Regions from separate parts of the Homo sapiens genome. Here region 2 is linked to region 1. The links come from fine-mapping of genetic effects on gene expression. A gene starts in region 1. The other region holds a variant in brackets. All regions are shown on one strand. Distances are from middle to middle.

Region 1 (2,915 bases):
TCTAAGGGAAAATGGAGGCTGGGCACAATGGGTCATGTCTGTAACGCTAGCACTTTGGGAGGCTGAGGCTGGAAGATTGCTTGAGCCCAGGCATTTGAAACCAGCCTGGGCGACATAGTGAGACCCCATCTCTACAAAAAAAATAATGATAATAAACTTAGCACCTGTAGTCCCCGTGGCTGAGGTGGGAAGATGGATCACTTCATCCCAGGAGTTCAAGGCAGCTGTGAGCTATGATTGAGTCACTGCTCTCCAGCCTGGGCAACAGACCTTGTCTCAAAAATAAATAAAGGAAGACAGAGACTGGTGGTAGGCGAGACTCCTTGAGCTCCCTTTTCCAAATGTTTCCAACAATCAGCATCAATTCCCGAGGGAAAACTTTAATAAATAAATAAATAAGATTAATTATCTAGTGACTTCATGAGTGGTGGAACAGTTTCCTTTGGTTTTGAGGGGAGAATAAACTACCCATGCAGGTTGGTGCTTGCAGGTGAGGTTAGACATGTCCAGAGGCTGAATTTTCCAGAACTAAACCACCGATTCTCTTATGGGCTTCTGTTTCCCAGCACTAGTAACGGCAAGCTATTTACAAGGGACCAAGAACTCTGTTTTTCTCCCTGACTGCTGCATTGGTATTAGCAGCATCTTGGTGTGAGGAAACCTGCCTTCCTGCTGGCAACCACAGGAGGCTGTCATTTTCTCTGAGACCCTCAAGTTAGGAGCAAAGGCAGGTTCTAGGGCCGCCTGTTGCTTTGAGACTGTTGCCTTCATCTCCTGCTTCCAGCAGAACCAAGGAAACATTCGTGGCTATTCCCCCAGGAGTAGGGTCCAAAGGGATGCCTTGGAGATTTTTTTTTTTCTCTCTCTCTCTTCTGCATCTGTGGCTGCCCAGAGGTGTTTTATCAGTGTGAACAGAGCAAGATGAGTAAGGTGTTCCCCGAGGCAGATTAGGAGACCACTCGTCCGGTGTGGGGGGTGTGTGTCTGTGTGTGTGTGTGTTCGCGCGCGCGCAAGACGTGGAAGCCAAGTGTGCTGAAATGCAGCTCCCCTCTCTGCCTGCAAAGAGTTGCTCCGCTTCCGTCCCTGCCCCGCGCCCTGGGGAAGCGCCAGGGGGAGTCCTCGCCGGCCAGGGCTTCCCGTGCCCCGGGAGCATCGAGGGCCAGCTTGGTGGAGCTTAGCACAGCTTGCTCGGCGCTGCGAGCGGGCGGGGGTGGACACTGGGCTTCTGTGTGCCAGTCGCAGCCGTTGGCTGGCGGGCACCCAATCCCAGGGCATGCCGCCGGAGCCTGGCCAGGACGCACGGTGAAAGACGAGTTTGGTGGCAGGCTTGACCCCCCGGCTGCCAGCAGAAGCCGGCGTCGGGAGCCCAGGCGGGCAGGCCGCTGGGGTCGGGGCTGCACGTACGAGAGCCGGGACGCCCGGGTTCAGAGCGAAGGAGGAGGCATGGCTTCGGTGTTCATGTGTGGCGTGGAGGACCTGCTGTTCAGCGGCAGCCGCTTCGTATGGAACTTGACCGTGTCCACGCTGCGGAGATGGTACACGGAGAGGCTGCGGGCTTGCCACCAGGTGCTGCGGACGTGGTGCGGGCTGCAGGACGTGTACCAGGTGAGCTGGAGCGCGCGGCACCCGAGGGCCCCAGCAGGATGCCGGGCACTCGTGGGAAGCAGGCTCCACCTGTATGATTTTATTCCCCCCAGCTCTTCTTAAACTCCTAGCAGACTGCTTGGCCCTTGGGTCAAACGCTCAGCAGCTCTAGGTAATTATTGCTTGACAGAGCTTGTGAATTTTTCAAATCGGGCATGGGGGGCACTTGCGAGATAGTCCCAGCGTTTGCAGACATCTGTTACAGAGCAATGGTGTACTGGCGGGCGCTTGACTAGGGAGGCTGTTGCTTTGCAACAGAGGGTCTTCAGAAAGCCACTTAGACATTCAAATGAGTCCTTCTTTTTAATTTCATTGGGGGTGGGAGTGGCTGCTTCTGAAGCAACGGTTTCACACCAATTTGCTGGCAGAGGGGGCCTTGGTGGATTTTTATCCTTCCGTTGGATTTTCAGTTTTCCATCAGGCAGCCCCAACTTGTAAGGCAGAGCCAGGAAAAGCTGATTCTGTGTCTACTGGCTTTTGGAAGGAAGGACAGCAAATTGTGAACACTTTGCAGGAGGATGACAGGCTGGGGAAGGGAGGGGTGGCCCGGCTACACGTTGGAATGCTCATGTTAGGATTTACTCCCTGTCACACAACACAGCCCCTTTATTTCTCTGCTCGGTCCCATCCTGCAGGCAAAAAATGCAGCAACTTTGCTCAACTAGGAGACCATTCATCCTCTCTGGTACTGCAGTTTGCCTGGATTTCTTTTTTTTTTTTTAGACAGTAATTTATGAATTTAAAAGTTCTGTGCTTTGGTTGTTAATATATTTGAGATTTTTAAAAATCTGCATTGTTTAGAAATATACTTGGTGTCTACTGTGGAAAGATAATATCATATTTTCTTTCCTGTGATGTGGAATAGCTTTGTTGCAGTTCCTGGATTTCCCCCCATTTGACCCTGTTCCTAATATGTCTAGAATTTATGTCTTATTATATTGTGTCTCATACATGATCAAGCACTTGATTTTGACAAACCATAATCTTCCATCAATCAGGCAAAATGAAAAGGCCAGCACCTAAGGTTAGCCTGTGGAAGTCTAAAGAGTCAGCGTCCCCTTGTCACCCTTGTTAAAATATGAGGAACATTTGAACTTGTGCTTTCACTGCTTCTGCTTTGTATAACATATCTGTGATATCTTGCATTTTGAAATGGAATCTGAAAGGCAGGTTGGGAACCAGGGCAGCATGTGGGAGTTTGAGAGTATTAGGGAATTGTGGATATATCCCATCTGGCCACATTACATAGCTCTCTGGCTTTTTGGAGCCAG
Region 2 (2,915 bases), 30 kb after region 1:
GAGCCCCACCAAACTCTCCAATCCTGTGTTTATAAGCACCCACATTCTTGAACAGTGTTGGTCAGTGGACTAATGGTGTCAGATTCCAATTATCCTTTCTCACACAAACTGACATATTAGATAGGATATTTTTGTTTGCAAATAAAGTTTTGTTTAAAAATCAGAACCAGCTTGAGCAGAAACGGAAATTATAGACTCAGTAACTGAAAAGGCCAGGGAATGACTTCAGGTTCAATGGCATTTCATAATTCAGACAGTGACATTGGAGTATGTCTCTCTCCAACTCTTCTGTCTGGCATGAGGTTTCCTGGTAGCCCCAGATTTTCATCCAAGCAACTTTGTAACTCCAGAACAAACAAAAACAAAGATACTTCTTCTCTGATCCCTATGACTAATGGGTATGGGGTGTATTAGTAAGGGTTCTCTAAAGGGACAGAGTTAATAGGATATTATATATATATGTATATATATTATATATATGTATATATACGTGTGTGTATATATGTATGTGTGTGTGTATATATATATCTATATATAAAGGGGAGTTTATTAAGTATTAACTCACATGATAACAAGGTCCCACAATAGGCCGTCTGCAGGCTGAGGAGCAAGGAGAGCCAGTCCGAGTCCCCAAACTGAAGAACTTGGAGTCTGATATTCCAGGTCAGGAAGCATCCAGCACGAGAGAAAGATGTAGGCTGGGAGGCTAGGCCAGTCTTGTCTTTTCACATTTTTCTGCCTGCTTTATATTCTGGCCACAGCGGCAGCTGATCAGATGGTGCCCACCCACATCACGGGTGGGTCTGCCTTTCCCAGCCCACTGACTTAAATGTTAATCTCCTTTGGCAATACCCTCAGAGGCACACCCAGGATCAATACTTGGCATCCTTCAATCCAATCAAGTTGACACTAAGTATTAACCATCACATGGGGGTAGAGTGATTTTATTGGTCAGTCTTGAATCACATATTCATCTTCTTTATATGGGGATATGGGGTTCCCCCCTACCCCCAGTTATTTGGATGGTGTCCCCAAAGAAAAGCGGGGATCCTGTTTCCTAATTTTTTTTCTTTTTTGAGATGGAATCTTGCTTGCTCTGTCACCCAGGCTGGAGTGCAGTGGTGTGATCTCAGCTCACTGCAACCTCCGGCTCCCAGGTTGAAGCAATTCTCCTGCTTCAGCCTCCCGAGTAGCTGGGAATACAGGTGCCGGCCACCACACCTGGCTAATTTTTGTATTTGTAGTAGAGATGGGGTTACGCCATGTTGGCCAGGCTGGTCTCAAACCCCTTACCTCAGGTGATCTGCCAACCTCAGCCTCCCAAAGTGCTGAGATTACAGGTGTGAGACACTGTGCCCGGCCTCCTAATTTTAATACTCCTGGTAGACTCCATCTCTATGTGTTCTCACACCATAACCTGAGCTTACCCAGCCTCCCCCCTAATTTGGTCTGTCAACCTTCATCTGGCCCTCAAGCTGCCCTGGCCTCCTGGTTTTAGCCTTGCCTAATCTAGCCCAACTTGCTGCTGAAACTGGCTATCAACATTCCGATTGTCCTTCAACAGTGAAAACATTTTTACCATACAATCAGAAATGTCCCACTAGTTCTCTCAGTCGACTCTCCAACCCAGTAAGAAAAGGTACCATGTATTGAGTTTTTACTGTTATATATTAACAAATAGAA[G/T]GTTCTGTCAAATAAAGTAATACAATAATTCCCCACCTTCCAAACAAGAAGACTCAGGCAAATGTTTTGGGTCAACCTATATAAAATTTTAGAAATGTATATGAAATATTAGAAAATTTACTCCTAATATTAGGAGTGCTCATAACACTTGTTATGCAGATTAATAACTGGAGTGATTTCTGCCTTGTGCTCTCCCTCTTGATAGGATAATTTTATTCAGCTTCTTCATGTGCATGTGTGTGCTGGCACTGGAACAAAAGTCCTCTTTGAGTCATCCTTTTATCACAGCGCAGCATCTCCACTTCTGCCCAAGTTGTTTGAGCTATATAGCACTTTTTCAATCTCCATATATGATGCTTTTCTGGGAATATCATTGCCCAGCTTTTTTTTTTTTCCTTTTTCCATTTATCCTACAAGTATATGTGCATGAAATAATGTTTAAGTAACTTGTTTCTTCTAACATCCAACCCGTCCAATTGGGAGGTCACGTGCTCACAAATAATTACTAAATATGTATTAAACTTTTTGCCACCTTTTCTACTGATATCATCAAGTGACTTCTATTTGCATCCAAACTTAGCATTGACTGAAGTTGTTACAGGCTGCCATGTCTTCCCCAGACAGTATATTGTGGTCATAGTAATTAGAGTCTTTAGAAGGATCTGAAGATAAAGCCACTCCCCGGTTTCTGAGGGATTAACATTTTGTGGGGGTAAAGGGAGGTACCCCACCCTATATTTAGATACCTGTGGTATCTCCCAGGCAAATTCTTTGAGCTTTGCATGAACTATCTCTTTTAATTTCCCCAGCACTCCTGAAGGAGATCAGGATTTTTATCTCCATTTTACAAAGGAGGGAACCAATTCTCAGAAAGATCAAGTAACTTTCCCAAGGATATATACAACTGTAAAACACGAGGTTTCTCTGACTCTAGAGAGTCTTAGAGATTTAATCTTATGGTTATATTCTTAACCATACCATACTCCTGAGCAAAATTCCAGACTGTTCTTTTTTTCAGGAGGGAGAAGCATGATACCCTGTCACAAACTTTTACTTAGTCATTCTCTTTTTTTAAAAAAAGTAAATTTATTATTTTTCCAGTATTCTATATGTTTTTCTCTCTGCCTTCAAGCATAATGTATTTTGATTATTTCCTATTCACTGAATGACTTCAATAGTAATGATTTCATTAAATGCAAATAGTGAAATGAATCTTTTCTGAGACCACGTCA

The links. PIP is the estimated chance that this variant, and not a neighbour inherited with it, causes the effect.
Region 2: its variant is fine-mapped to the expression of FRMD4B in whole blood (TOPMed, PIP above 0.99).

What each region holds. Positions count from the first base shown.
Region 1 is chr3:69,384,518-69,387,432 of GRCh38, reverse strand. FRMD4B (FERM domain containing 4B) reads left to right here and starts at 1,345. Exons shown (of 23, transcript NM_015123.3): 1 at 1,345-1,605. The coding sequence starts at 1,444. RefSeq lists an enhancer at 1,268-1,878.
Region 2 is chr3:69,354,190-69,357,104 of GRCh38, reverse strand. The region is part of intron 1 of FRMD4B (FERM domain containing 4B); the gene reads left to right. Among named protein-coding and RNA genes, the nearest start is that of FRMD4B, 30 kb to the left of the region's middle. The variant G/T (reference allele first, on the strand shown) is at 1,684.